Regions from separate parts of the Homo sapiens genome. Here all the other regions are linked to region 1. The links come from fine-mapping of genetic effects on gene expression. A gene starts in region 1. Each other region holds a variant in brackets. All regions are shown on one strand. Distances are between the middles of the regions. Region 1 holds the start of PUS7L (pseudouridine synthase 7 like). Region 2 overlaps IRAK4 (interleukin 1 receptor associated kinase 4). Region 3 has its middle 61 kb from the start of PUS7L. Region 4 overlaps PUS7L (pseudouridine synthase 7 like).

Evidence for each region.
Region 2: its variant is fine-mapped to the expression of PUS7L in whole blood (TOPMed, PIP 0.99).
Region 3: its variant is fine-mapped to the expression of PUS7L in esophagus mucosa (GTEx, PIP 0.97).
Region 4: its variant is fine-mapped to the expression of PUS7L in skeletal muscle (FUSION, PIP 0.95).

What each region holds. Positions count from the first base shown.
Region 1 is chr12:43,754,224-43,762,807 of GRCh38, forward strand. PUS7L (pseudouridine synthase 7 like) reads right to left here and starts at 4,567. Exons shown (of 9, transcript NM_031292.5): 1 at 4,507-4,567; 2 at 113-1,038. The coding sequence starts at 1,022. It overlaps IRAK4 (interleukin 1 receptor associated kinase 4), which reads left to right and starts at 4,728. Exons shown (of 12, transcript NM_016123.4): 1 at 4,728-4,793. RefSeq lists enhancers at 4,255-4,304, 4,645-4,754, 5,375-5,434.
Region 2 is chr12:43,778,096-43,783,844 of GRCh38, forward strand. IRAK4 (interleukin 1 receptor associated kinase 4) reads left to right here. Exons shown (of 12, transcript NM_016123.4): 8 at 98-207; 9 at 4,212-4,395; 10 at 5,567-5,629. Among named protein-coding and RNA genes, the nearest start is that of IRAK4, 22 kb to the left of the region's middle. The variant T/C (reference allele first, on the strand shown) is at 3,440.
Region 3 is chr12:43,693,588-43,702,171 of GRCh38, forward strand. No RefSeq gene overlaps it. Among named protein-coding and RNA genes, the nearest start is that of PUS7L, 61 kb to the right of the region's middle. The variant A/G (reference allele first, on the strand shown) is at 3,656.
Region 4 is chr12:43,731,467-43,740,050 of GRCh38, forward strand. It overlaps PUS7L (pseudouridine synthase 7 like), which reads right to left. Exons shown (of 9, transcript NM_031292.5): 6 at 6,844-6,925; 7 at 4,915-5,195; 8 at 239-292. Among named protein-coding and RNA genes, the nearest start is that of PUS7L, 23 kb to the right of the region's middle. The variant A/G (reference allele first, on the strand shown) is at 4,367.

The DNA of each region.
Region 1 (8,584 bases):
GTAAATCATATATTCTTTCCAATCTCTCTAGCCAAGTCTGTTCAATTCATTTTCACAATTTTAAATTTAGCTAAGCTTATCCAAGAAAATGGATGATGATTTATTAAATTACCTGTATATATAACTTTTCCTTCTTGGCATTCAGAAAGAGGCCTTTTCCCACGTTTGTGTGCTTTTTCCCGAAATCTTACTGTTACCACCACATTCGGATTACCAGCACTGCAATTCATTTTAGAAAAAGATTTGGTTTCCACAAGGTTTCCAAACTTTTTGTTGACAAAATGGTGGACAGCTTTTCTGTGGTCTTTGTTTGTATCAGGTTTAAAGGTAAATTTGGAATTTTCTTTCTTTGCATCCAAATATTTAAAAAAGTCAAATGCTTCCTCTTCAGATACCAAATGACAAAGTTCTTTATATTCAAGATTTGGTTTTACAACAATTTCACTGTTTTTTCCTACAGTTACTAAAAATGGAAATTTCTGCCTAATGGCACTGTGTAAACTAGCCCTCTGGTTTTTGTCAAGGATTCTGCCTATTGAGAATTCAGGAGGTAGTCCAATTAGCTCTGTTTTAGAAAGCCACTTCTCTCTTACATCACAGGCAAAATTATTCAGTAACTCATGAGTTTTTTCATCCAAAAAGGAGCTTAAAACATCAGCTTTTTCTTCACATTTGGAAGTTCCATCAACGATAGTATCTTCCTTTTCTGAACCAGACTGATGATTTTGGTCACCATCAGTGTACTTAATCAAAGTATGAACTTCTTGGTTTCTTCCATCTTCTAAGGACAGATTTTGAAGATCTAGTTTTGGTTTTTTGGGAAAATTATTTGGCTCAAGTTGTATTTCACTAATCTTGAAAATAGGCTCATCGATGGTCTTATTAACTAACTGTCCCTGTTCATCAATTTCAATAACAATAAAGTCACTTGGTGAGCTTTTTATAGTGCCATGAAATCCAACGTGATCATTAAAGAAACACAAAGAACTAAACCTGATTCTATAATCTGTATCTTCTTCCATTCTTCTATAACAGTGCCTAGAAAACAAAACAAAGAGGTGGTTAGTTAACAGAAAGAGAAGTTATGGATGACCAAATAGGAATAGGTTTGCAGGATTTAGTTAATTCTGTCTCTCTTTTAATTCTGAGTCTTCTTAAATGGTATCATTAACTTAATTTATAACTATATGTACTTCCTGTGTACTTTGACTCTCCTATACCAAGCTGAATTAATAGGCAAACTATTTCTGGTATAGCTAAAGATTTGTTAACTTGTATCTTCACTCACTCCAGATTTGTACCTATTATCCAGGATTAAAATGAGTCAATTTTATCTTAAAAATATCATTTGTAGGCTCACAAGAAGAGGTGAGAACACAGGACTATAAAACAAAGATTTGTCCAAATTCCATTCCTGGAGCCTAAAATTTCCAGCTAATTCCAGAGAACATGTGGCTAAGTTTTCTTATATTATTAGTGGTTAGTGACAGGAGAGGTGACAAAAAGACAATAGGAAAACTGATGGGTAAATGAAGTTCTAAATACAAATTTGTGATTTGATTATATTTCAAGGTAGGATTAAGTCAGTCCTGGGCCTTCTCTAATGCCCCCATTAGGACAAATAGAAGCTTTCAAGGTTGAGCCAGAGGAAAGTTCTAACTATATCATTGGCATCAGACAGAAGAAACCCTTACAGAGCTTCCTGGAAACACTATGCAAGAGAATAGTACTCTGATCTCTCACTTTTCACACAAACCCATGGCTACCATACCATATGGAGCTGCAGGAAAGATAAATTGCCCAGGGGCCCCATACTAGTGAGTTCTGTGTTTCCCCCACATTCTCCAAGTAACTTATCATCATCTGGACCATCATCTCATACCTATAATGTATTCTACTAATCTGAACCAATTTAGCAAATCACACCTTCTCAATCCTTTCCATCATGCCATATAGAAATCACTACAAATTCTCCATATCCTAATTTCCTAAGGAATATATAAGATATACTTACTTTCCTTAATTACTTAATTTCCTGTACAGTTCCCTCACTTTCTTGCCCTAATTGAAATCTGGCTATTTCTTCAGGCTGCTTCTTCTTCAGTCCTCTCAAGTAAAGGCTATTTTTTCTTTCCCACCCATCTACCTTAGGACCTGGAGGCTGTAAATATTGGTCTATGTTTGTCACTGTTCGTTGCAAGCCATTTCTTCCTCTACTACCTCCAAAAACCCCAATTCTTTTGAAGAGCCTGCCATTGGGCTTTACCATCTGCTGTCATCCTCTCTCGGATCCCCAGACAACTCTGCTTCATTCACTGATCTCTGGCTCACTACCTTCTTATCCAACATGATTTTTATGATCATCTATATGGATCATCCATTCAATGTCTTGGACCCTCAAGTCCTCAATCTCAACCTCAACCTCACACCTCTACTTCATCTTGGTCATCCACTGTCACGGTCATAACTTTGACTTTCTCATCTCCAAAAACTGCATTAACCTTAAGCATCTGATTCTTATGACTCCCAATGTCCTTTATCACACCAACTTTAATACTTCCATTCCAAAAACTTTTAGATATTGTGAAGGTCCCTAACTCCTGCTTCTATAACTAGCCCACAAACCAGCCAGAATGGTCTTAAAAGGTAAATTAAATCATATCACAATCCAGTTTAAAACCCTCTAGTCACATTTGCAATAAAATCCAAATTACTCACCCTGGCTTCCAAGGACATCTAAGATTAGGGACCCTGCTTATTCTCCAAACTCATTTGTACCTTTACCCCATTACCCACTATACTCCAGCTACTCTGGCCTTCTTCAATAGTTTTGTGCTAACTGTTCCTGTTGTTTAAATTGTTCCCTCCCCAATCATATAGCTGCATCTTTTAGGATTCATTTCCTCAGAGAAGTTTTTCCTGACCAATAATCTACAGGAACCTGCAAGTGATTCTCTTTTTTTTTGAGACGAAGTCTCACTCTGTCGTCCAGGCTGGAGTGCAGTGGCATGATCTCGGCTCACTGCAACCTCCGCCTCCCGAGTTCGAGCGATTCTCCTACTTCAGCCTCCCGAGTAGCTGGGACCACAGGGGCGCGCCACCACGCCCGGCTAATTCTTGTATTTTTTTAGTAGAGATGGGGTTTCACCATATTGGCCAGGGTGGTCTTGAACTCCTGACCTCGTGATCCACCCGCCTCGGCCTCCCAAAGTGCTGGGGTTACAGGCGTGAGCCACCGTGCCCAGCAAGTGATTCTCTTTCACAAAACCCTATTTAATTTTCTGCATAGCAGTTCTAGGTAAAGTTTTTCTTTATTATTTATTGTATATCTCCTCCAAAGAGAATGTTAGTTCCACGTGAGGAGTAACCTTGTCTGCCTTATTTACTACTGATGATCACACATTTTGAACAGTGTCAAGCACATGGTAGGTCTGCAATAAATACTATTGTTAAATAAATGAAATAACTAGTACAAAATAAGAGCTGTAGGAATGAAGTGGAAGATAATTAGAAGAGGCATAATGCAAGAAGTGGCCATCTAAGTCCTCCATAGTTCAAGAGATAGAAATGAGGCAGAGACCTCACAAGTAATGTACAAACAAAACATGCAATGTGTGCAAGAAAAACAAGCAGTCCAGATACAGAGCAGTGGGGATGGGAATGCAGGGAGACTACAGTGCTGGAAAATGTAGCTGAGTTAGTACCAGATTATGGAAGATGTTGAATGCCCTGACAAGGACTTAGAATCTATTGGGTGGTCAATGGATGGCTACTGTTAGTGTTTGAGTAGAAAAGTGACACAATTCCAAAACATGCTTTTGGAATTGTAAGATGATTCTGATGGAAATGAGCAAGATGTATCCGATGGAGTAACAGTTAGAGGAGTTCAAAAACAAAACAGCATGGTCAAGAACATAGCTGTAGGGATTGGCCCTGAAAGAATAATGATCTTTTCTTTCTCCCAGAAAAAAGGAGGAAGACAGACATTCTAAGCAAGTGAAACAGGTAGGGAAACTTGGGGAGAATGTAATTCCAGCATCCTGGTAGAAGAGTGGAACTGACCTGGAGGACAGCAAAGGAGCCCACGTGGCGTTAAGCCTGAAGGTGCAGTATTCCCATTCAACAGAGACTGCTGCTGACAGTGGGCGGGGGAGTAGTTTGCTTGGCCCGTGGTTGAGGAATTCGTTGGCGGAGGAGGGATCCTGAGAAGGTACTAGAAATACTGAACCCAGTCCTGCAGAAGCTACTTAACTTCACAGAAAACTAGGGCGTCGTTGCCCTCCAGCACGTCCAAAGGTGTCCCCGACAAGGCCAGCAGCTCTACCTGTTTCTTCTCCCTCCTCTTACTCTGCCTGTCCAAAGGCACGACACTAGTCCACGTCACCTTTCTTTGGGCGCAAAGGGTATGGATCCTCAATGCCAACCTCGTCACCCCCCCCCCCCACACACACACACACACACACACATACAAGCCCACCATCGCGCAAGAAACTCGACCCCGTCTACCTCGGTTCAGTGGAAGGCATTCATTTGCACAACGCTGTGCGCATGCCCGGAAGCCTTAAGTGTTTCAGCCTCCGACAGGGGCGTAATTAAAGGGGCAGGCGCCCACGTAAAGACGCGCCCTACGCAATACGTGGAGTTTCTCACTTTGTGGAGCCGCCTGGAGGCGCCAAGATGAAGCCCATCGGGGAAGTGGGGCGGGGCCAACCCGGCAGGCCCCGCCCCTTCGCGGCGCTTCCTAGTTCGGCTGGTTCTTCTGTCGCCGGCTTCAGCAGCCCGCGCCCGGGCAGGTAAGGCATTCCCCGCCTTAATGCCTCGGTCAAACGTCGTCCGAGGTCCGCTTCCAGGCCTCGGCACCTCTGCCCCAGGGTTGCTGGGGTCGGCTGCGGAACGGAAATCTCTTTATCATCCGTGAGAAAAGTTAGAGAGGAAGTGGGTTCCTTTGACAGAGCTTACTCCAGAAGAAAGACTTGGGTAGGTCCCCGGTAATCAAGAAGTTCGTCGGCCCTGAGGAAGAGCCTGAGGCTTGGAGGGACGTCACCCAGCTGTTCTGGGGCGCAGTCGGACCTCAAGTTTCTCACCTCTCAGGCCCTGGATTCCGTGAACCCGACTGCGAAATGAAGTCTCTTTTCCCCAGAACCAGGAAGTCAGGCCAGCACCTGACAGATGCCTGTGGCGCCAGCAGCTCGCTGAGCCTCCACACGATTGTAATTCGCTTGTTTCTCCGGCCTCCAAGCTTCCAGGGAATTAGAAAGTGGAGGCGGCTTATGGGATCAGATGAGTACATTCGCAGATGGGGGAAAAAAGTGTACCTGTCAGCTTGGAAGCCAGAGGGAGACAAAGGGATAAAAGCAAACCCTGTCCAGGTGCGGTGGCTCATGCTTGTAATCCCAGCACTTTGGGAGGCCCAGGCGGGCGGATCGCTTGAGGTCAGGAGTTCGAGACCAGCCTGGCCAACATGGTGAAACCCCTGTCTCTACTAAGATACAAAATTTAGCTGGCATAGTGGCGGGCGCCCGTAATGCCAGCTACTCCGGGGGCTGAGGCAGGAGAATCGCTTGAACCCAGGAGGCAGAGGTTGCAGTGAGCCGAGATCGTGCCACTACACTCCAGCCTGGGCAACAGAGGGAGACTCCGTCTCAAAAGAAAAAAAAAAAAAAAAAAGCAAACCCTGAGAAAGCGAGAAAGCACTTTGAGCATTTAGAATGGGAACAAACGGCGCTATTAGTGCTTCAAAAACGTAACTGCCCAAGGCCCCTGGTAAGCAGAGGATACTAAAATCTGCCTTTTCCCTTTCTTGGAGTGGTCCTTGAAGAGGGCTATCGGGAAGTTCAAATTTCTTCTGTTTTCCTGCAGAGCGTTCATTTGAAGTTTGCTTTCTACCTCTCCAAACTGAGCTTCTGATATTCCAGGCCAAACTTGCTCCTTCCTCAGCCTTCTCTATCTCAGTAAATATCGGTAAACTTGGTTATGCTGTCTTCTCACTCTCCACATCAGCCCATAGCTTTCTATTGGCTCCACCTCAGAATCCTAGGACTTCTGCACTTGCTCTGCTACGACCCTGGTCCCAGCCTGCAGCACGTCCCACCTGGCTTATTGGTAGGCTCTCCTAAATGCTTCTTTCTTGCTTCTCTGTCCTTACTCCAACATCCTTTATTCCCAGCAGCCCCAGTATCCTTCTAAGACATGAGTACAGAGCATGTCTCTTTTCTCAAAACTTCCAGCATCTACATCTCACCCAGAGGATAAACAAAGTCAATACAAAAACTCTAAGGCCCTTGAAGACCTGGCCCCTTTACCTTTCTGACCTCATCTGCTACTTGCCTGTTCCCTCCTCTGCAGTCTCACCATGTCCTTGCTGTTGCCCAGTGGGCCCAGTTCCAACCTTTGCATTTACATTTCGTTTTGTCCACAAACTTTTCCCACAGATAGTCCAGTGGCTGGCTTTCTCCTTCTTTTTGACCTTTAATCAAATGGCACCTTCTTATTGAGGCTTCCTGTGACTACCATATTTATAATTACAACCTTTTCTCTATTTCGTTTTGTTCTTTCATTTCACTTGGCACCATCTAACATACTATAGAGTTTATTTATTTGCTTATTGCCTTCCTTCCTCCATTAGAATATAAACTCCATGAATTCAGGTTTTGGTTTTGTTTTGTTTTTTTTCTCTAATTTTCCTAATGCTTCATCTCCAGGGGCCTGGAGCAGTATCTAGCACAAAGTAGACACTCAGTAAATATTTGGTGAGTCAATGGTATTATATTTTGTTTTTTAAATATATGCAAAGCATTTTCAATTACTTACTGTTGTGTTGGATCAATGTTCAAGAAAGATATGTTAAGTTTAATTTATGGTACACCAGCACATATCCCAGTTTGTAATAGGCAGCCCTATCTAATTTAATAGCTCTGGAAGCCCTCACCAGCTTTTGTTCATAATGATGATGTTAAAGTATCTAAAAATAAAGATTAATGGTTATACAGCATATTTTGCTAAGAATATATGGAAGTAAATAGTGTATTTTAGAAAGGATATAAATACATTAAAATTACCATGGTTGATCAAATAAGACAGCCACCATCTCAAAAGCTTAGCTATTTTCTCAGACTTGTTATTTGTACGCTTTCAGTAGATCCTCACTACTGTTCTGGAAATTGAACCTAAATACAGTCTGCACATATCTTTAAAAATAATGTGATATAAGAATAATTTCTGCCAGGAAATAATAATTGCTCCTTTTTTTTTTTGACCACCTATTATTATGTGACAAGATTTGGCCCTTTGCATGTGTTGATTTTAATTCTTACAGCAATTCTTAGGTATTACTATCTCTGTTTTTCAGATAAAGAAAAGCAAGGTGCAGAGAAATGTATTTACTAGCTCTGGTCACAGTTGGCTTTGGTTAGAACTTAGGCCTGTGCAACCTCAAAGTTCATCTTCCCTCCACCCCTGCACAATCTTTTCCTCTGATCAAAGTGCTAATGAAGCAGTCTTAAAACTTTATTAACACATTTGACAAGAATCTTTTGCCCTCCTGTTTTGGGCACAGTACTTTGGGAAGGCATTGGATTCCATAAGCAGGTGCTTATTTTAATATATTTCTCAATCACCACCCCACCTTTTACACTTGTCTGAATTGTCTTACTTGAAAATATGAATGGGTTTTCTTTACTATGAGAGTTAGTGGTATGAGGAAACAGTCATGAAGGTATTTACTTATTTGTAAGCAACATATCCTGTTCCACCTGTGTTAATCCTAAGTGTACTAAAGTAAATCTTGAAGAATTTGAAAGAGATGACACTTTTTAAGTTTTTTTTTGCCCAGTCTGTTTTCATTATTGAAAATTCAGAAAAGCAAAATGAAAACAAAACTATCATAAAAGTCATCACCAAGGGATAACCACGTTAATATTTTGGCTTATGTTCTTGTAAGTATGTGGTTGGGAGTGGTATATGAATATACATTTAAAGTAAAATTTTAATTTCTGGGATTTTGAACTTCTGGGCACATGTGTGGAGGAGTTGCAGAAGGCCTTCTTTTTCCTAGTATCCCTACACTTATCACCTCTGCTGGAAGCCTGGGTGCAGGAGAGCTACCAAATTTATCCCTGGCCTTTAGATAGTCTGGGTTTTTTCCTCAATTCCTTGTATTTTGCTCTAATTTATAAGACTACTAAGCAGTTCTATCTTGTCTAGCTTTGTCAATCATGTTGTACCTTACAGTAGAGAGAAATCTTAGTAAGGAAAAATAACTTGAAGAGAGCAACTGCAGAGTCTATAGGCAACCTAGATACAATTTCTTAATTAAAGTTAAAAAGTCATCAGCCTTTCATTCAACACAAATGTTGTGAGTCGTTGCTGAGGTGAATTTGGTTGGGTCCTAGCTCAGGAGAGCACCCATCTAACAGAGAAAGCAAACACATAAACAGTAAAACATAATAATTATTATAACAGAAGAATGACTAGGTGACATTTTGGAGCAAAAGAGATGACAATCAGGGGAAGCTAACAGTGCCTTTTGAATTGGGCTTGAAGGAATAATAGGCATTTACCAGGTGGCCTTTAAGGTATGTGGGCT
Region 2 (5,749 bases), 22 kb after region 1:
CTTCAGTTGTTGCCTAGAAAAATATTCTGTGTTATATATTCTCTGTAGATTTTTTATTATTCTTTCTCATTTTTAATTTGGTTTATTTCTTTATAAGGATGGTACTCCACCACTTTCTTGGCACATGAGATGCAAGATTGCTCAGGGTGCAGCTAATGGCATCAATTTTCTACATGAAAATCATCATATTCATAGAGATATTAAAAGGTAAATGCTACTGTTTAAAAGTTTTTGGAAAGCTGTCTTTAAAGAATAATTTGCTGTCACTCTATTCACGATTCATATGCAGGTCTTAACCTAGAGCATCTGGACTTTTTTCCCATCACTCCATGAAAGCTCTTCTCAATAAGGACATCTATAATCTCCTTTATTCCAAGCCCAGTGACCTACTTCCAGTACTCATCCTACTTGACCTTTTTTGTTTGTTTTAATAGTAGTTTATTCTGTTCTTCTTGACACTTTTGCCTTATGGAAATTAGTTGTTTTCTTAGTTTATGGATCACTATTCTTTTCTGAATCACCTTCATCCTCCATGAGTACTTTTCAGTTCTCTTTCTTTCTTGTGTATTTATCTAGTTAAATATTTACCTACTATAAGTAACATATTCATATATAGAGCTCAACATCAATCAAATAAGCACAAAATAATTATAGAATGTTAATATGTACAGTTCACATATATATTATATGTATTATTATTATATAGTATAGTACATAGGATTAATATAAAGAAGGGTTTCCAAGAAAGTGACATTTAAGCAGAGATTCAAAGAATGGGCAGGAAATAAGTAGACACAATTTGAGGGTAACTGTAGAATGGATGATGGGGAGAAGAACATTCTAGGCAGAAGGAACTGCATTTGTAAGACCAGTGGTGAGACAGAATATGGGAGCATGATGAGTTACAAGAAATGAAATATGCTTTGGGAGCCAAGATAGGAGGATCATTTGAGGCCAGGAGTAGCAGACCTGACTATGTTCCCTGAACAACATAGCAAGACCTCATCTCTACAAAAAAACTAGTCAAACGTGGTATTGCATGCCTACAGTTCCAGACACTAGGGCAGCTGAGGAGGGAGGAGGCTTGAGCCCAGGAGTTCAAGGTTGAAGTGAGCTATGATCGTGCCAGTGCTCCCCAGCCTGGGTAATAAAGTAAGACTCTGTCTAAAAAAAAATGAAGTAAATGCAGTATGACTGAGATGCAGAAAGTTATAGGGTGGTGGATTGGAGATAAAACTACAGAGAAGTGTAGGAAGCTAAGTCCTATAGGACTTAATAGATCAAGGTAAGGCTTTTAGTTTTATCACAAGTGTAATGAGATGCCGTTGAAAATTTTAAGTAGGAATATGGCATCATATTTAAGTTTTGCAAAGATGATTTTAACTCTAGTGTAGAGAACAGTTTGTAAGAAGAGGCAGTTAGTAGGCTATCATAGGTGGCAGTTCATAAGAAGAGAGGGGAGCAGATTAGAAAGATTAAAATGGCAAAACTTGTTGATACCTTGGCTATGCAGGGGTTCAGGAAGAGCGAAGTATCAGGAATGACTCCTGGAATAATGGCATCCAGACTTGCATTCTGGAATGATTATGGCATGATTCACTTATGTAGAAAGGACTGAAAAAAGACTTGGTTAGGTTGGGGTTAGAGAGATGGTTAGAAAATGTGAATTCTCTTTTGTACATGTTGTGTTTGGGGTGCTTTTAAGATGTAGTAGTAGAGATGGTAGACAGTGTGATATACAGATTTGGAGCTGGAGGTCTGAGCTGAAGATATAAATGTGTATTACTTGCATACAGGTGATAATTGAAGTGACTGTATTCACTTGAGGGGAGATGTAGATTAAGAAAAGGTCACAAGATTAAGTCTTGGGGAACCCTAAGACTTAATGGCCAAATAGAAGAGATGATCACAAAAAGGAATCTAAGGAAGTACACATACAGAGAAGGGTAAGATGAAAACCTGGAGAGTGTGGAGTCCCTGAAAACGAGGAAAGAAAGTGTTTCCCAAGAGGGAGTAGTCAAAAAGAGTCAAGGGCTTTAATCATTGGATTAGCATCACCATGGTCTTTGGTGACTTTATGGAAACCCATTTCCAGGTAGTAGTTGGTTTAGAAATCACATTGTAGTTGAGAGAGTGAGAGCTAGAGAACTGAGATAGGAGTATAGACAAGTCTTTTAAGACATTTTACTAGTGAAGGGGACAGCTAGAAATAGATAAGTCATTCAGGAAACTTTTTTTAAGCTGGCAGAGATTAAGCTGTGCTTATGTGCCTATAGGAAGGATCCAGATTAAAAGGGAGAGGATAGTATGGAAGAGAGAAATGAGATGATGTGTTCAGTAGGGTTACTGAGAATGTAGAAAGCAGCTCAAGCAGAGGAACTGACCCTAGATGAGAAAAGAAACGCCATCTCCTATCCTTCATGGATTGGTACTTTCTTGTGTTCTTATATCATTGTCTCTTTTCTCCCTGTATGTTCTTTTTTTTTTTTTTTTTGAGACAAGTTTCACTCTTGTTGCCCAGGCTGGAGTGCGATGGCGCGGTCTTGGCTCACTGCAACCGTCGCCTCCCGGGTTCAAGAGATTCTCGAGCCTCAGCCTCCTGAGTAGCTTGGATTACAGGCATCCACCACCACGCTCTGCTAATTTTGTATTTTTAGTAGAGATGGGGTTTCTCCATGTTGATCAGGTTGGTCTTGAACTCCCGACCTCAGGTGATCCGCCCGCCTTGGCCTCCCAAAGTGCTGGGATTACAGGCATTAGCCACCCGCCTGGCCTCTCTCTGTATGTTTTTGCTGAGTGATATTATGTTAATTTTAACTGCTACTTATATGTGAGTGTCTTTTGAATCTGTATTATTAGCTTCCAATCCTGGATTTTTAGTATCCCCGTACCAAAAACACTTCATCTGGGTATCCCACAGTAGCCTTTAAGTCAGAACATTAGAAATCAAACTCATCAGCTCTTCCCAACCTAAAGTCTTCCCACATTTCCTTTCTGATCCAGTGAAGTCACTGTTCATTCTGTCTCTCAAACTGAACACGTTCTCATTCTCTATATCATGCTAATTACAAAATTCTGTTGTGTGAGCCTCAAAATTTTCACTTTCCATTTATCCCATGTTATGACCATTTAAACCCTCATTATCTCCCATTTGCTTTGTTACAAACCTTCGTAGTCAACCTAAATCCAGCCTATCAGTTCTCATCTATTCACTACCACACTACTAGGTCATGGTCCTAAAAGTTAAGTCTAATAACATCAGTTTCCTACTGTGAAAACTTTAGCTGGTATCCTGTTGCTCACAGGATAAAATGCAAATTATCTCCATGTTTCTTGGACACTCGTTCCTTGAAGTTGACCATGTATACCATATCATGTTTTTGTCACTTTGTACCTGTTACTCCATTTGCCTGGAGTGCCTTTCTTTCCCTCATATAAC[T/C]ATTAACTTCTAATAATCCTTCAATACTAAGCACACTTTTCACCCTCTGTTTGAAATTTTTCCTACTTTTTCCAGGCACATGGTTGTTCTCTCAGCATTTTGTACCTAATATTACCATTGTTTTAAAAAATTATTTATGCCTTTGTCACAGACAAGATTTTAAGACTCCGCCATGCCCAGCAGTGAGCTTAAATACTACACAACATAGGGAGTTCTCAATAAGATTGTGTTGAATTAAAGTATGAAAGCACATAATGAATTAATTGAGATATTTTGGCCATATTTTTTTCTCTTCAAAAGCCAGATAGTACAGAACAAAAGAATAAAGAAATTCATAATTGAGATACTTTGGTTGGAAATTTGTTTTGAAATGAATTGATACATACTAAGAAAGGAATTAATAAAGGTGCCTTGGAAGACTTTGTAGTAATTTACCCTATAATAAATGATTTGTGGAATAATGAAAATATCTCTTACTAATGTAGACAGTTTTATTTCATTTTTATTCTCCTAAATGTTTTCCTCAAGAAACATAAAAAAAGAGGACAGTTGCTTCTCTTTAGCTATAATCTGAATTCTAGGTTTATTTCTATAAACTTTAGGCTTTTATGATGCATACTATAAAACGTTACACTCTGTAAATATGTATGTACATATGCATGTATGCATATACATATATACATGCATACATACGTACATCTAGCTAAGGAACTGTTTGACTTTTTTGGGGTGGGAAAAACATTTTTTTCTTCAAACTTTACATTTTTTTCAGTGCAAATATCTTACTGGATGAAGCTTTTACTGCTAAAATATCTGACTTTGGCCTTGCACGGGCTTCTGAGAAGTTTGCCCAGACAGTCATGACTAGCAGAATTGTGGGAACAACAGCTTATATGGCACCAGAAGCTTTGCGTGGAGAAATAACACCCAAATCTGATATTTACAGCTTTGGTGTGGTAAGTTCCGTATACATAATTATTAAAAATAATCATTCTGCTATAATTGTGAAAATGAAGAGAATATTATTTAATACACCCATCTTGTTTATCTCTCTTATGTAACAATATAAGTTTTTCACATTAACCTCTACTTATACCAGAAAGTTTATAAAAACTTCTTCCAATGTGTAAAACTTTTGAGTTGATTTTTGAAATGACTACAAGAAATGATTTTCTTGCCATCTGTCTTTATGAATTAGCATGACACCTAATGCATTAAATGAATCATGTCATACAGTATATACTTTAGTCTCACATTTTTTGACATTTACTAATCTACCTCTCTATTCCCAATAACTTTTAAGATAGAGCAAGAGATAGGTGTGGGTGGTTGAAGAAGCCGGGGGCTTTTTCTTCATTTTATTTTTTCATACGTGTTTCATATATGGAAATTTAACTTCATAGCACTGAAAATAAGGCATAGGGCTATAGAATATGCCTAATGTTTAGAAAATAATATTCTCCTAAGAGCCAGAGTAAATTATTCTTGTGAAGAATCCCCAAGAGGCAGGAAAAGGATTGGGAGTCCTTAGAACATATGTTGAGTGGGGCTGACTCTTTAGTAAGTTGCCAATAGAAAAGAGCTGCTTATGGTCATGTTGGGGTCCAAGATGTCCCTGAAGGAGGGATGGTGAGAAATGCCCAAAGCTCATGTTCTTTCCACTTTAATATCTAAAAGACATAGCTTTGTATAGAATGATTAATCAAATTTTGTAAGCAAGATTCATATTCATTCTAGTTTTTGTCTTGAGTATTATATATATAATTTATTAATATCATGTATAATATATATATTTTTTAGAGAGACAAGGTCTCACTCAGTCACCCAGACTGAAGTGCAGTGGTGGAATTATGGCTCGCTGTAGCCTCAACCTCCCAGGTTCTAGTGATCCTCTCACTTCAGCCTCCCAAGTAGCTGGGACTACAGGTGTGTGCCACCACACCCAGCCAATGTTTTTTTAAAATTTTTTGTAGAGACAGGGTCTCACTGTTGCCCAGGCTGGTCGTGAAGTCCGGGGCTCAAGTTATCCTCCCACATCTGTCTCCCAAAGTGCTGGGATTACAGGCGTTAGCCACTGTGCCCAGCCTATCTTGTGTATTATATTAATGATTTTTTTTGTCTTCATAGGTTTTACTAGAAATAATAACTGGACTTCCAGCTGTGGATGAACACCGTGAACCTCAGTTATTGGTAAATGAAATATTCATTTTCCTCAATCCTTTTTTCTCTGCTTTTGTAGTCTAAATTTATATGGATAAATTTGACATCTAAAAATAACATTTTCTATTGGCAATCTTTCCATTGGCTATT
Region 3 (8,584 bases), 61 kb before region 1:
GTGTTAGAAGACCTCTTAGAAGAGAAAAAACATTTATAATAATGATTGGAATTGGCCGGGCGCGGTGGCTCACGCCTGTAATCCCAGCACTTTGGGAGGCCGAGATGCGTGGATCACAAGGTCAGGAGACCGAGACCATCCTGGCTAACACGGTGAAACCCTGTCTCTACTAAAAATACAAAAAATAAGCCGGTAGTTGTGGCGGGCGCCTGTAGCCCCAGCTACTCGGGAGGCTGAGGCAGGAGAATGGCGTGAACCCGGGAGGCGGAGCTTGCAGTGAGCCGAGATCGCGCCACTGCACTACAGCCTGGGCGACGGAGCGAGAATCCGTCTCAAAAAAAAAAAAAAATAGAATGGTTGGAATTGGCTAATAAGAATGATGAATAAAAATAGAAGAACAGGAAAACAATGAGGCAAAAAAAAGCATAGATATTAAGATTACTTAGTCCCATTTATGTTAAAGAAAAAGCTCAAAAATAAACTTTAATAAAATTATAAATACTGCTTTCATTAAGCTATATAATAATTATTAGTATTTATTTCTATTGAATATAGTAAATAATTATTCAATTCCAACATTAGACCTTAGGTCCTAAAATTGTCTTTATTTACTATTTGAAGGATATTTTGAAACAAATGATTCTGGGATACACCAACCAGAAACCAAAAAATCAATAAAAGAAAATGTAAACCACAATAAATAAACCATAATTTTTAATAAAGTATTTTATATTTAGACAAAAATAACACTATTAGTAAATAATCTTATTTTAGAATATTACTTCCTGCTTTTAATGCTTATTTCAGATTTAAAGTTTAACAAAATTATATTCAGTTTCAAAAAGACTTGTGTTTCTTGGCCTTGAAAGAAATTATAAAAAGAAAGTTTTAATCTTAAGACTTTTTTATACTATTAAAAAAACTGTTAAGCCTTACTACAAAATAGTCTTACAAAGTATAAAAACTGCATTGTATAATCTGTATTTATTTTGTGGGAATTTTGAAAAGTCAAAAGTCAAACTGGGCCAGGTGCGGTGACCCACCCCCATAATCCCAGCACTTAGGGAGGCCGAGGTGGGCAGATCACCTGAGGTCAGGAGTTCGAGACCAGCCTGGCCCACATGGTGAAACCCCATCTTTACCAAAAACACAAAAGTCAGCCGGACATAGTGGCGGGCGCCTGTAATCCCAGTACTCAGGAGGCTAAGGCAGGAGAATCAACTGAACCTGGAAGGCAGAGGTTGCAGCGAGCCGAGATTGCACCACTGCACTGCAGCCTGGGGGACAGAGTGTGACTCTGCCTCAAAAAAAAAAAAAAAAAGTCAAACTGGAAATACAAATATAAAATACCATTAAAAAAAATAGGAATCTGTCTCTATGTTAAAATTAAGTTTACCAAAACTTTAAGGTGCTTTTAGGCAGCAAACGTCTGGAATAAATTCCTGCTCACTTTATCTCTCTGCACCCTTCTTCTTTGCTCTTTTGGCTCCTGTCCAAAATGTGAGCTGTGAATATTATCTCTGTGTACTACAAGAGTGAGAAATATTGTTCAAGATGGTCTCTGGGCATCTTTTGATTTAGACCTTACTATATTATGACCAACATATTTTTTCCACTAAAACATTTCTTATGAAAATGCATACAATATAGGGCAGGAATAATACATATCACTATTAAAACCATGATTAACATTCATGATCAGCTTAGCTATGTATTTTCCTGGCAGGACTTACTTCCCTAGAGGACTTATTTATGGGAATGGGAAGTTAGAGAAGACCCTGTCATGACTTATGTATTAGTTCGGATACTTAAGTAACAAGCAACAGAAACCAAACCTGGCTAACTTAAGTAAAAGAAAACATGATATGAGCATCATAGGACCTAAGAGAGAGCTGAAGAAAAGGGATGGGAAAAGTGAAACCAGATAACCCCCAAAGGTCTTTCTAATTCCACATGACCACCACTGCTCAGATATGAACCTGAATTTTCATCACGTCAAGAATACAGATAATGAAGCAGAGTTAACATAAAAAGAGCAAAAGCAAGGTACCATTAGGAAAAAAAAAAACAAGATTTGAGTAGCAAATAATAATAATAAACAGCCACAATAGAGAGTCTTTATGGAAGGTTCTCAAAGGCAGCAGACCTGGCTAACTCCTTAGTTACTATTTGAGCAATGGTGAAAATGACTGAATATAAAATATACTAACCAGAAACCAAAATTTAATAAAAACTGTATGCCAAATAAAGACAATAGTATTTTTAAAAATTACAACAGTATTTTTTTTAATTAATGGATAGACCAAAAAAAAAAAAATACTATTGGATAAGAGCACAGACTCTTGTGCCAGCTTCATTTTGCAACCCTGAAAGAGCTACTGAATCTCAAATGATTTATGTAACTTTTTGTACCAAAAATGTTGTTTTCATCCTGCCAGACAAGGCAATATTCCTGAGATGAGTGGTATATGTCACACTTAAAAATTGCTCTACAAACTTGGGGTACAACCCAAACTTGGGGTCACTTCTTTTTTATTTTCCCAATTGATTGCTTAAGCACGTGCCTGCCATTTTAGTAGTAAGTTCAACATTTTTCTTTGAGCTCCACCTTTCCCCTGAATTTTCCAAAATCCCTGGCTTTACCCAGTAGAAGAGAGGTTCATTCTGCCTTTTGCACTCAAGCAGAAAGGCAGCTGGTTCCACAGTTGCTTCTTTCTGCTACATGGTGTTGCTGTTGACAGCTGGTCCTATAGCCTGGCAGATAGTGAATATCTAGCGGTAACACACACCCCTGCTTAGGCTGTGCAGGTCATGAGGAAGGATGAGCTGATTCATCAGGGGTTAAACTCCGCTGAAATTGCCCGATACTTGGTTCCCAGGGTCTCATAGGACTGTTTCCATTCTCTACCACATTAAGTACTTAAAGACACAGAATCACTCTTTCTTCCCTCCCTAAAGATCTGGGAGTGTTTTTCTTTGAAATCCCCCAGATCCAAATGTTCTGATTACATCCTTTTCCCTCTGATAAGGGGGCTTCTCAAATATTTTCCTAAGGAGCAATACCCTCAGTGTCTCCTGGGCATTACCCGCTCCCACCCTCCTTTTGCACACACTTCTGAAGGACAGCATTCAGTGTCTTCAAGGTGATTCATTGGCCTAAAGAAATTCCCCAGATAATGAAGATAATAACTTACAATTTCTCTATTGAGTCCATATTGTCTTTGAAATCAGTATAGGCACAATTAGTTTGTTTTATATGTAATGCCACACAATCCTCATCCGTGAGTACCCATGCTAATTAAGTTGTGTGAACTTTTCAGTCACTTCTTGTTGCATGCAGAAAATAATCCATGGGTTATAAAACCCAATGTGATTTGGCTTTCTGAATCTTATCTCATACTGTGTAACCCCTTGCCCCACTAACATTAGCCTTTTTCTTCCTTGAATGTGCCAAGCTCACATCCTGCTAATTGCCTTGAACTTGATGTTCCCTCTGAAGACTTTCCCATGGCTGGTTCTAACTCTTCACTTCCCTTTTCTTGTTTTTAACTTTTAATTTTTGTCAGTACATACTAGGCATATATACATATGGGGTACATGAGATGTTTTGATACAGGCATGCAGTGTGTAGCAATTACATCATGCAAAATGGGGT[A/G]TCCATCTCCTCAAGCATTTATCCTTTGTGTTATAAATAATACAACTATACTCTTTTAATCATTTTAAGTGTGCAATTAAATTATTGTTGACTAGAGTCACCCTGTTGTGCTAGCAAACACTAGGTCTTATTCATCCTTTCTAGATATTTTTTGTACCCACTAACCATCCCGGCTTCCCTCTCAACCCCAACTACCCTTCCCAGCCTCTGATAAACATCCTTATACTCTGTCTCCATGACTTCAATTGCTTTGATTTTTAGATCCTACAATGCATAAGAACATGTTATGTTTGTCTTTCTGTGCCTGGCTTATTTCACTTAGCATAATTACCTGCAGTTCTATCCATGTTGTTGCAAATGATAGGATGTCTTTTTTTTCAATGGCTAAATAGTACTCCATTGTGTACATGTACCACATTTTCTTTATCCATTTATCTGTTGATGGACACTTAGGTTGCCTCCAAATCTTGGCTAGTGTGAACACTGCTGCAACAAACATGGGAGTGCACATATCTCTTTGATATACGGATTCCCCTTTCTTTTGGATACATACCCAGCAGTGGGATAGATGGATCATATGATAACTCTATTTTTAGTTTTTTGAGGAACCTCCAAACTGTTCTCCACGGTGTTTGTACTAATTTACATTTCCACCAACAGTGTATGAGGGTTCCCTTTTCTCCATATCCTCATCAGCATTTGTTATTGCTTGCCTTTTGAATAAAAGCCATTTTAACTGGGGTGAGATGATATCTCACTGTAGTTTGATTTGCATTTTTCTGATGATCAGTGACATTGAGCACCTTTTTATATGCCTGTTTGACATTTGTATGTCTTCTTTTAAGAAATGTCTATTCAGATATTTTGCTCATTTTTTAATCAGATTATTAGATTTTTGCCTGTAAGTTGTTTGAACTCCTTATATATTCTGTTTATTAATCCCTTGTCATATGGGTAGTTCACAAATATTTTCCCTCATTCTGTGGGTTGTCTCTTCACTTTGTTGATTGTTTCCTTTGCTGTGCAGAAGCTTTTTAACTTGGTGTGATCCCATTTATCCATTTTTGCTTTAGTTGCCTATGCTGGAATTTTTGCCCAGACCAATGTCCTGGAGAGTTTATCCAATGTTTTCTTATAGTAGTTTCATAGTTTGAGGTCTGAGATTTCAGTCTAATCCATTTGATTTGATTTTTGTATATGGTGAAAGATAGGGGTTTAGTTTCATTCTTCTGCATGTAAATATCCAGTTATTCCAGCACCATTTATTAAAGAGACTGTCTTTTCCCCAGTGTATATTCTTGGTACTTTTGTCAAAAATGAGTTCACTGTAGATATGTGGATATGTTTCTGGGTTCTCTATTCTGTTTCATTGGATTATGTATCTATTTTTATGCCAGTACCGTGCTGTTTTGGTTACTATAGCTCTGTAGTAAAATTTCAAGTCAGGTAATATGATTCCTCCAGTTTTGTTCTTTTTGCTTAGGATAGCTTTGGCTATTCTTGGTCTGTTGTGGTTCCATATAAATTTTTGGAATTTTTTTCTGTTTCTGTAAAGAATGTCATTGGTATTTTGATAAGGATTACATTGAATCTGTGGAGTGCTTTGGGTAGTAGGAACATTTTAACAATATTGATTCTTCCGATCCATGAACATGGAATATTTTTTCCATTTTTTGGTGCCCTCTTCAATTTCTTTCATCAGTCTTTTATAGTTTTGTAACAGATCTTTCACTTCTTTGGTTAACTCCAAGGTATTTAATTTTATTTGTGGCTACTGTAAATGGCATTACTTTATATTTTCTTCTCTGATTGTTCACTATTGGCATATAGAAATGCTACTGAGGGGGTTCTGTCTCTCAGCTTTGGAGCCCCCCTCCCTCTGTCTCTCTACAGGGGAGCTTCTTCTTTTTTTCTTCCCCCTTCTTTCTTGCCTATTATACTCCCTGCTCCTTAAAACTGCTCCTCCTGTGCCTGTGTCGTTTTTTCTAATTCAACTCGAGATGAAGATCCTGGCATTCCTCCACTCATCAGAGCCATATCTTTTGGTGCATTGGTTCGGAATCTGAGGTACAGCCTTCATCGGAGTGGTGAGTATGGGAGCAAGCTTAAAATCTGTTCTATCATTCCGAAGTGCTCTTTGCCTCTATATTTAAATAAATCCAATAAATCAGTGGGCATTGGTCAGCCTAGTACATATGCTTAGCGTTGGCTGCTGTACTTAAGTCATGGATGTGAGGCTTGCTGGGGAGAACGTGGAGAACCCCCATTACCCATGGGTATTGGGAATGTTGGCCATGTTTGAACTAGTTTCTTTTCATGGGGAACCTTGCCATTGCACGAGGCTGGGAAAAGTTCAGAGGCAACTGAGAATTTCTGGCCAGGGCACACCCTGGTGTGATTCAAAGGCCTCTGGACCAGACACAGCCTCTGACAGCCCATCCTGGGTTTTGGCAGAGAACCTCAACTGTCCTGTCCCATAACTCTTCTTCCTTCTCTATCCGCAGCCTCTTACTGTTTCTCTGTGTGAAATGTGCAAGGATTTTTACAGTCTGGGAATAGAGTTTTCCCGTTTTCCCCTACAGTAAGTTTACTTGCTACCATTTCTCTGGCAAGCACATAGCATTTCTAAGCCAACAACATCACCTCATGGAAGTAAATAAGAATCTAGGCTCTTCTGGGAACAGGAGGTTTCTGCCTTTAGCAGTTAGGAGTAAAATGTCTTCCATAGCCAAATTTTAGTCTTAATATTGTCCCACTGGCAGGGAAACGGCTATTTGGTTCCTAAGTTCCTTTAAGGAATCAATTTTGTCTCCTATTAAGAGAGTACTTAATTAGTAAGGGATTTTAAGTCCGGAAGTTAACCGGAACCATTTTTTAATGGGTAAATGCTTTAGCATGGCCTATAATAGCAGGATATAGAATTCAGTCTAGCGCGCCCTCTCCCTTAAAGGGGTCTTGCCCAATTACGTGGCTTTTCTTGAAATTCATTGTTTTGAAAGGCACAAGGCAACACAACTCTAGAAGGTCAAAGGGAAATAAAAGGCAGAGAACTGATTGCTTGGGGACAGCACGACTAAGGTCCAAACTCAGTTCCTCTGGTGCCATGGCTTGGAGGGTCACACCTGCAGTCATGGGCGGCACATTTAAACGGGTGCTGGGAATCCAGGAAAGAAGGAGAGAAAATAGTTGGGGGAACGGATGCCTCCTACTACTTTCTCCTCCATCCTGGATCACATACTGAAAGGAAAGAGACTAAAAGGACGCTTTTCTTCTCACTTCTTTTTCTAGATGGGTAGCAGATCGTCTTCAACATGTACTCCCCTGGAGTGTATTTTGAAGCACTGGGACTCCTTCAATCTTGAAACTTTGAAGAAAAAGTGGCTTATTTTCTTTTGTGGCCATATCGGGCAGGCCCAGGGAAAATAGTTGCTCAAAATTAAAAAAGGGAACTTTCAGGGAAATCATCTGAGGGTCCCCCTTATTTGGGGCCCCTTCATGTTCTCTTCTCATTGCAGGACATTAGGCAAGTAGAGGGAGACTTGGGTCATTTTTCTGATGACCCTGATAGGTGTATAGAAGCTTTCCAAAATTTAACTCAGGTATTTGACCTCTCACGCAGGAATGTTATGCTGCTCCTAAGCCAAACCCTAACTACGGTTAAAACAGGCAGCTCTGACAGCAGGAGAAAATTTTGGTCATGAGCAATATGCCTCCTGTAGTAGGCCAAAAGGGAAAAGAGAAAATAGGGAAGGCAAAGAAATAGGAGAAACACCATTCCCAATAGGAAAAGAGGCAATAACTCTTAAAAACCCTAATTGGAACTCCTTTTTGTGGTGTTTTTCCTTCTTTCATGGGTTAAAATGGTTTTTATCTCTTTTATAATGCTCTTCCAACCTGGGAGAAGTTAAGTTTCCAAACCTTAAAAATGCTTGGCTTAGAGTTGAGCTGGGGGAAGGGAACCCAGAAGCCTGACATGCTGGCAAAAGGGTAAAAATTTCTTACCATTAGGGCTTTTGGCTTCTCTTTACCTGTGCAAACTGGTAAAAGGGATAAGATTAGAAACCAGGCCCAGGATCCCATGGGCCTGCTCTTCAAGCCAACTCAGCAAGATGATCAGTAACGAACTTGACCACAGGCCTCCATCTTATTTCATGTCCTTGGGAACATAATCTGTAACCATGTGGCAATACTTTGTTTTAGTCTCAGCCATTTTTCAACAGGAAGTAGCCTCTTCTTGTGCTAAATCAGATAAGCCAGTTTGTCAATCTGGGTGGTGCCAGCTGATCCATCAAGGGCAGGGTTTACAAAATATCTTAAGCACTGATCTTGAGAGCAGTTTAGGGAGGGTCAAAAATCTTGTAGCCTCCAGCTGCATGGCTTCTGGGCCATGGTTTCTAATCTTGTGCCTAGTTCATTGGTCTGGTCCCCAGGAAAAAAGGAAATGTATCTTGGGAAGTGCCTGTTATCATCTTTGTTTTAGACTATGAACTGTAAACCAGGCTCCTCCCAAAGTTGCTTCAGCCTATGCCCAGGATGGGCAAATACAGCTTAGGGGTTGGAAACAAAATGGAATTGTTTGGGTCCAATCTCTTCCACTGTCACAAATTTGCAATGACAGTTTCAAAACCTGCCTATCACACCTTTAAAAATACCTTGTACAATTGTGGTTAAGTCATAACTTAATTAAGCCTTGTTGGTTTCACCTGTGAGGTTATTTTTTGTAAAATTCAAAAGCCAAAAATCTTAACTGCTTGGCGTGGCTAAAGTCAAGTAACAAGGGATTTAAAAGGATTTTCTTAAAGAATGCTTAGCTTAATTAAGAGTGGATATTCATGTTATAGGCATATTTAAAAGGCCTTTATGTTTTTCTCTTCTTGGATCTTGTTTTTCTGGAAAAAGGCTCTTCTCAGTTGACTGAATTATTTTTCT
Region 4 (8,584 bases), 23 kb before region 1:
GGAGGAAACTGTTCTTTATGATTGATATTTGTGGTGGCCACACAGTCCTACATTTATCAAAAATATGTTTATCAAAGTCTATACAATTGTAAACTAAGTGAATTTAATTGTATATAAATTATACCTTAATTTAAAAGTTGTTTAATAAAAAAGAGGAGGGGAACTAGTTAACATTTTGCTTTTTGGGGACAATGTCTACACTTAGATCTAAGTGATAGTAATTTTTAAGCAAATTTACCTGATGTATTGCATACATATTAGCTGATCCCTCCTCTTCAGTTACCAGGTGAATCTAGTTTTAAAAAACATGAAAATATGAATGATTCCCAAATGTTCCAAATTTCCACCACTTTCAATTTTCCCTAACTCTATTATATATAAATCAGTTCCTATGCTGAATATACATAAACCCAAACAAGATCTTATCATAATTTGTTTCTGGAGGAGTAGACTACATAAAAATTAGAATGATTCTTCCTGCTTTAACCACTAATCACTGAATTTGGATAACATGGAGAAAGGTGGGCTGCTGAAAACTCTGAGGCAATACTTTCACCTCAATCACCAGCAATCTTTTTCTAAATCACAAAGTTTTTCTTTATTAGGCTGAATTGAAAATCTGCTTCTATAATATCAACCCACTACCCACCCCCACTAATCTCTGTCCCCCGAAAATATAATAATCTATACAGAACTGATTTTTCTCTGACTGGATGTGGTAGCTCACATCTGTAATTCAGTGCTTTGGGAGGATCGCTTGAGGCCAGCAGTTTGAGACCAGCATGGACAACATAGGGAAATCCTGTCTATATAAAAAAAAATTTTTTTTTATTAGCCAGGTGTGGTGGCACATGCCTGTAGTGCTAGCTACATAGGAGACCCAGGCAAGAGGATCGCTTGATCCCAGGAGCTAAAGACTGCAGTGAAACATGATGGTGCCACTGCACTCCAGCCTGGGTGACAGAGCAAGACTCTGTCTTTAAAATAAAATTGAAAAAAAAAAAATTTAAAGAGGTGGTATTTCTCAGCATTTGTTTCATAGAATGGTAACAGGTGTCACATACAAGAGGAAAAAAAGGTGCATGACAGATTAACTCTATGAAATGTGGCTCTAGGATATCACAGAATAAGCAGTTCTGCTTTCTCTTATACATGAAAGCTCAAACAGAAAGGCAGCTATTCTCTCTTCACAAGGCTTCAGCGCATTCTCATATTCCTAAAGCATTCATCACACGGTACAGTGTCTAGAGCCCCTCTAAATCTACCTGATTTCCCCTCAACTCTCCCTAGTCTTATCAATAATGTTGCTCCTTTTTGTTTTTAATTTAGGGTTTGTTTTTTTGTTTATTGGTAACTAACCTCTTTCAGTTACTGCACTCAGAAACAGAAACAAAGCTCCAGATGTGATCTGATCAAAATACAAGAGACAGACTACATGGAATTATGATCTCTCTTGCATCACCATTTCTAGCCTTTTTTCTTTCACAGAGTCATAAGTATACCTACATACTGTGATTTAAGTAATTTATGAAAACATCGAATAAACATGGTCAGGTATAAAACACCATGCTTTGTCTTTAAAGAATTCCCTCCAGGTTGATATCCAGCAATTCATGAACAAACATGCTTTCCTTGTATGGCTGCTCCCCAACTATAAATTCACCTAAGTTTTTAATTGTCTAACTCACATTTCTCCATCTTGCCCACACACACACACACAAAGAAAAGTTACCAAGTGATTTGAAAATGTAGATACACCTGTTAGTCTAGTAACTCTATCAAAAGAAGGAATCAGATTAGTTTTCTATAATTTTTAATTGTAGATGCATATTACATGCCCCATATACCATTTATTAAGAATTTTATTCTTTTTCCTTTTCATATTTTATATTTTGGGCCTCTAAGTCCTGCCTTTTCTTTCCTCAGTGCTAACTAATAAAATAAGTGATCGATCTTAAAATATATATAAACATTGTTTTTGCTGCTCATAAAAGGAAATTCTGCAAAATATGTAGGAGAAAATGTTTTCTCTTCTCCTATAGCTCCAAAAAGAAAGCAGCTAAAATTCCAATCACAAAACTATCCTTGTAAATGTTATTCTGAATGAAGAAGTCTTATAAAACTCATGCATTTCAAAAATTGTTGTATCTTGTGAAAGTAATCTTTAACTTCCAAAAATCTGAATTAGAAATGGATGACTTACTAATTAGTGTGCTTTCCAATATTTAATTGGACATGTTTTCTGGGAGGTGTTAAGAAATGATAACGATTTTTTATTATTTATCAAAAGGGGATCATTGACATATCTCTTCTCCCCCACATGAGGTAAAATAAAACTTAAATGCTACTAGATTTCTTTTCACACAGTTTGAGTCTGTATCTCAATTAAATTACCATTCTTAGTAACATATGCTGCCTCCTAGTGATCATTTTCTTATCATTTCTTTCCTATTAGGTTGGAGCACAAGTAATTGCAGTTTTTGCATATTCATCCATTTAATGAAAAAGTGAAGCCGACATCTGATGTTCTGGCTTATGCAATCTTTACTCCCTCTTTTCAAGTAGCGGCACTCTCATTTTCCAGGGGACCTCTCCCAGGTGTCAGATGTGGATTAGGGTCCCAGGAAGGAGCCCCAGGAATGCAGGTTTAGTCAATCACATACTGCAGTTCACACTTTCTGGTTTGGTTCTGTACATATGATCCAGGCCAGGCCATTCCTAGCCACTGAGACTCAATTACACAGCTTTTGTTGACACTGTTGGGAAAGAAAAATCATTTTTCTGCAGAGAAGCAAGTCTAGAGTGGTGAGAAATAAGCCTAGAGTCGTTAATAATAATCTTGCCACCAAAGGTGTAAGCTAGACTGGGAATGGATCTAACAGAGAAAAGCAGAGCTGAATGATGAAAAAAAGGAGATCGTTTAGGACACTTAAGTCCCAAATACAGCTGCGCCTGAATCAATCATGGGCTTTCAGTTATGAGGACCAATAAATTCCCATGTTTCTTTAAATTACTGTGGGTTTGAGGTGGGTTTCTATTACTTAAAACCAAAAAACCTTAATTAATACATCAAGAATTCTGACATTAATTTAGATAAAGTTTGCTTTATGTAGAGTTCAGAGTCTGTTTTACCTCTATTTTTGAAAAACCGGACCATGTTCTAGTTCTCACTACAGACTACTTCTCTATACTCCATGATTTTTCTAGTAGAGACCCAACAGGGCTAGGAGTTAGGCAGCCGGGTCTTTTTAATTCCACTACTTGTGTGACTCTGAATCTGTCTACTCTCCAATCTGGGACCCAATTTTCATTTCTATAAAATGGGAATTAAAAAAGAGTGTCTCTAAAATCCTTTTGTTCTCTAAAATTCAATGATTTTACTGTTACATACGAAAGTGTTACTCAAATTTTCACTAATTTTTAAAATTTATGAGACTGACTTATGATAAAGTTGGAGAATAATAATTTGTTCTTTTTGCATTACAGCACTATCAAATGAATTTCCTTGCATGATTTATGGAACCCAGTTTCATTAGTTCAAACTCACAGAGATAAAAACAACTGGATGGCCGGGTGCGGAGGCTCACGCCTGTAATCTCAGCACTTTGGGAGGCCGAGGCGGGTGGATCACGAGGTCAGGAGATCGAGACCATCCTGGCTAACATGGTGAAACCCAGTCTCTACTAAAAATAAAAAAAAAATTAGCCAGGCGTGGTGGCAGGCATCTGTAGTCCCAGCTACTTGGGAGGCTGAGGCAGGAGAATGGCGTGAACCCGGGAGGCAGAGCTTGCAGTGAGCCGAGATCGCGCCACTGCACTCCAGCCTGGGCGACAGAGCGAGACTCTGTCTCAAAAAAATAAAAAAATAAAAAATAAAAATAAATAAATAAATAAAAATAAAAAATAAAACTGGACAAGGAGGAAATGGAAGGACCAAGCTTTATAATATAAACTATATTATAACTTCACTAATATAAATGTCTCTAAGACATTGTTAAGAGGAAATTATGAATCATATTTAGATAAAATCACATTTCTATAAAAGAAATACACACATTACATTGTTCCATATACCATTATAAAAATCATATTCCTTCTCCTCTCCATATTTTAAGTTTTGAGTCTCTAAGTCCTACCTTTTCTTTTCTCGGTGTTAACTAATAGAATAAAAATAGATTTTCAATGGATATTTATGTGAAAACATACAGAAAGGTCTAGAAAGACACATAACAAACAACAGAGGTTGAGTCTCTGGAGGAAGCACAGGGAATCACATTAGGATGCTAGCAGGGATGGCAGCCTCATCTGTAATGTTTTTATTTTTGTTTTTAGGCACAGTCTCGTTCTGTTACCCTGCCTGGAGCGCC[A/G]TGGCACGATCTCGGCTCACTGTGACCTCCGCCTCCCAGGTTCAAGAGATTCTCCTGCCTCAGCCTCCTGAGTAGCTGGGATTACAGGCGTGCGCTACCACACCTGGCTAATTTTTGTATTTTAGTAGAGATGGGGCTTCACCATGTTGGTCAGGCTGGTCTCAAACTCCTGACCTCGTGATCCGCCCACCTCAGCTTCCCAAAGTGCTGGGATTACAGGTGTGAGCCACCACGCCTGGCCTTGATTTTTATTTTTATGGGCTGTTTTGTGCATTATTTGTGTAATCTTTTTTAAAATGGGTTTTTTAAAGGAAGCTTTACTACCTATATATCTTTCACTCCATACCACTATTTTTATCTTTCCATTTACCAACATGTGTTAAGCCTAAACTGACAGCAGACTTGAAGCAGGAGATGAGTAAATATAAGTACAAATAGATAAATAAATTACATGTATGTTTAAAGTGTTTCTATAATCAGGGCTTTTGAAAAATTCATGTTCTGGTATAGTAACTACTCTTGGAAAACTCTGATGGAATGATACTTACTTTACTATTTGGGAAATTCTCGTCATCAATGTCTTCATCCAAACAGACCAAATCACCCTGCACTACTCTTGCTCCATAGGTTTCAAGTCTGTAAGATACTGCCTCATTCCAAATTTTGCTGGTATATGCGTGAACATAGAATATGCGCATGGAATGGGGTAAAGAGAACCATGCCTGGATACAACCTTCCTCGGTCATGCCAAAGCGGTGCAATGCCTCCAACAATGCTCTCTCACGCACTTTGAATTCAGGCATCAATGAAAGTGTGCCTTTAGCATCCTCTGAAACAAAGGGTAAATCAGGTATAGTTAGCCACTTTTATTTAAAGGCCAGTTATAAAGGCTTTTGTTCTAATCTCAAACTGAGGCAATGAACATGGGTATTAAGATGATATTCAACACTTTCAGTTAAACCTAGCTACACTTGAAGAGCTTTAAAAAAAATAATAAGCATAATATGGCCCTACTTTCACTTTCCCTGCTATTAAAAAAAAAAAAAGCCAAGAATCCAACATTAGTAACAGCTTACTAAAGTCCCTTACTTCAGAATAGAGATAATCTAATGAAGTTATTCACAGGACTGTTAAAACAAAATCAAACAAACAAACAAAAAACCTAAAGGATTAAATAATTTAATTGCTGAGCTAGCAGAGGCTTGAGTTTTTTAAAGAGCTATTCTGGACATAAACACAGAATTTTTTTACTAAGAAAGGGTTGAGATCTGGAGCCTTCAGGCACACTATTATGCCTCACAAATGCACTTTGAAATGTAGATGACTGGAATCTACCACAAAGATGCTTATTCACGTATGGCCTTGGAATTGGCATTGAAATAGATGTACCAGGTGTTTCTTATGCATATGAATGTTTAAGAATCATTGCCATAAGGAAATTATCATCTCGGGACTCTATAACAGACATAAACAAGTCACTTTGAATTTTCCTTATTATTACTTAAATTACTCATAAGAGTTAGAAGTGTCCACACTGTTTACACATTGTGGTATGGCACAAAAATACTACTTTCCTGCGAATAGCTGCACATATGTAATATGTACATAATTAAAAATAATAAATAAATATTTGAAAACTGACATCCTTTATTTCAATATAAGTGAAATTCAGTATGTCGGTCAGATATCTGAATGAATCTGAAATGGTGTGCTTGCTGTTTTTATTATTTAAATAAAGGTAATATTTATAATATTATAAATAATATTATTTAAATAAAGGTAATATTTATCTCTGTGTAGTACACGCAAGGCATTATTCCAAGGGCATATCTAAATCTCATAATACTCTTTTAGGTACTGTGATTTGCTTCAATTTACAGATAAGGAAACTAACACAATGATGTCAAATCACTTGCACAAAATCATACAGTTGGGAAGTATTAAAGTTGAGAGTTAACCCCATGCAGTCTGACTCAAGCCATACTCATAACCACTTTTCCTTAGTGGTTTTCATCAAGCATTCTATATGTATTCCATCATACTGACCTAACGTTTTAAAAATTGACAGGGCTAATTGGCAGCTAGAATGAGAATAATGTGTAAAGTTTGGAATATCATAAATGAACTTTTATTTATTTGTGTTTGTATCTCCCCCAGCTGCAATTAATTATTGTCATCAGTGCCAGATTCGAATTTGGAACTCTCTCTCAGAGGATTTCAGCCAAGAAAAACTAAGAAACTATTTCTCCCATTGCCCCTACCCCTAGACAAGACTTAGCATAGACAAAAAAACTTCCAAATCTGACCAAAAACGAAGTGAGTGCCTAAGTCATGTAATAAAAGTGTTCAGTATGTAATATACTATAATTTATTTCTTATCACATTTATGTTACAATAAATGCTCTCCTGCTGATAAAACATTTATAGTGTGTATCTGTATCTGCATGGTTATGTACAGGATAAAGAAACGTAAATACCAGTTTGAAGAAAATACTTCTTTGCTCTATTTACAGGATCATCCAAGTCTTCTGGTGTAAGAAACAATTTTATGGCTTTCATCTTAAAAAATCAAGCAGGTAAACATGTGTTAATGAAAATGTCAAATTACTTTCTTTAAAAAAAGATGCAAATTCTCTAGCATCCTAAAAGAATAGGGATTTAATAATTATACTTGATGCTGCAATTTTCTCTTTAGGCTTGCAAAAATTAAACAGACAATGTTAAATGTAGAAATAAGCCTTCTGCATGAAATAATTTTATATATAGGTTTAAAATATTATGGACTGAAAAAAGTATTTCCCTATCACTTCCATAATTCTACTTTTGTCATTTTTTTTAAATATTAAAGTTAAAATGTATTGACATTCTTAGTAAGGTGTAAGAATTCTGAAAAGCTTAGGCTAAATGTATTAAACCCTTATTTTTAAACTGTTTCCAAAAGCAAAAAAATTAGCAAGTATTATAAATAGTAAAACTTTTTTGCAGTCATTTCAGGTTCTTAACAACCCACCAGAAGAAGCACCAAGAAAACCTAGCATATTTCCTAAGACAGTGAAAACTGAGCCCCTTCTGGCCTAAAAATAAATATTAAATAGTTCTTTAATATTTAAATAGATGTGTTTGAAAATATTTAATATTTAAATGGCTGGAGTAGAAGTAAAATTAAACCAATGTTTGTATTGTTACAGAAGAAAAAAGAAAAAAAAATAGGGCAAATGAAAAAGGAAGACAATGTCCAGATCAAAGAGTTAAATATGGACACAAGAAATGCAAGCAGCTGTAAAGTGAAAGATCAAGAACCACTCTGAGGGCTCAGAAGTAGAAACTAGTGAACTCCAAAAGCAACCCTCAAAGAAAAACAAAAAAGCAAGAAAGATTTTAAGTATCCAACTTACCTGAGTCAAAAAAGGGAAGAAGAAAAGAAGTAGCTCTGAAGATGTAGAATGCCTCGCTCCCAGAGCAAAAGTAAAGAAAATCACTCAGAAAGACAACATTAAAAAAAGAAGCCTCAGAAGTTTCCAAAGAAAACACAGCTATAACTTTCAGGTTAGGATTAAATGAATTAAAGTTATGTTTCACCCATTTCACAGCCACAAATATCTTTTTTGTTTGTTTTTTTGAGACGGAGTCTCGCTCTGTCACCCAAGCTGGAGTGCAGTGGCGCGATCTTGGCTCACTGCAACCTCTGCCTCCCGGGTTCAACCTATTCTCTTGCCTCAGCCTCCTGAGTAGCTGGGACTACAGGCGCCCACCACCACGCCCGGCTGATTTTTGTATTTTTAGTAGAGACAGTCTTTACCATATTGGCCAGGCTGGTCTCGAACTCCTGACGTTATGATCCTCCTGCCTCAGCACAAATAACTGGCTTTTTTATTTCTCAAGACTTAGAAGTCCTTGAAGAACAAAAGGATGCTGGAAATATAAAAGATGGTTCTCCCTTAAAACTAAAAAGGATTCATAAGACAAAAGATAAAGAGAGACATAAAATTGGAGAAGAGGTTATATTGAGAGTACTATCAAAGTAAGTACACAGTATAAATTCTATTGTCATTGGCAATTGACAGACAACCTAGAGTTCTGTCATCCTTTATCTCTATTATTGAGCCAAGAACACAAGGGTAAAATAATGGCATACATTTCAGACTGGACCAACACACATGACAAAAATAGGAAAGTAGCAAGCAGAGGGGAATGGCAAGCCCTTAATTTCATTTGTGC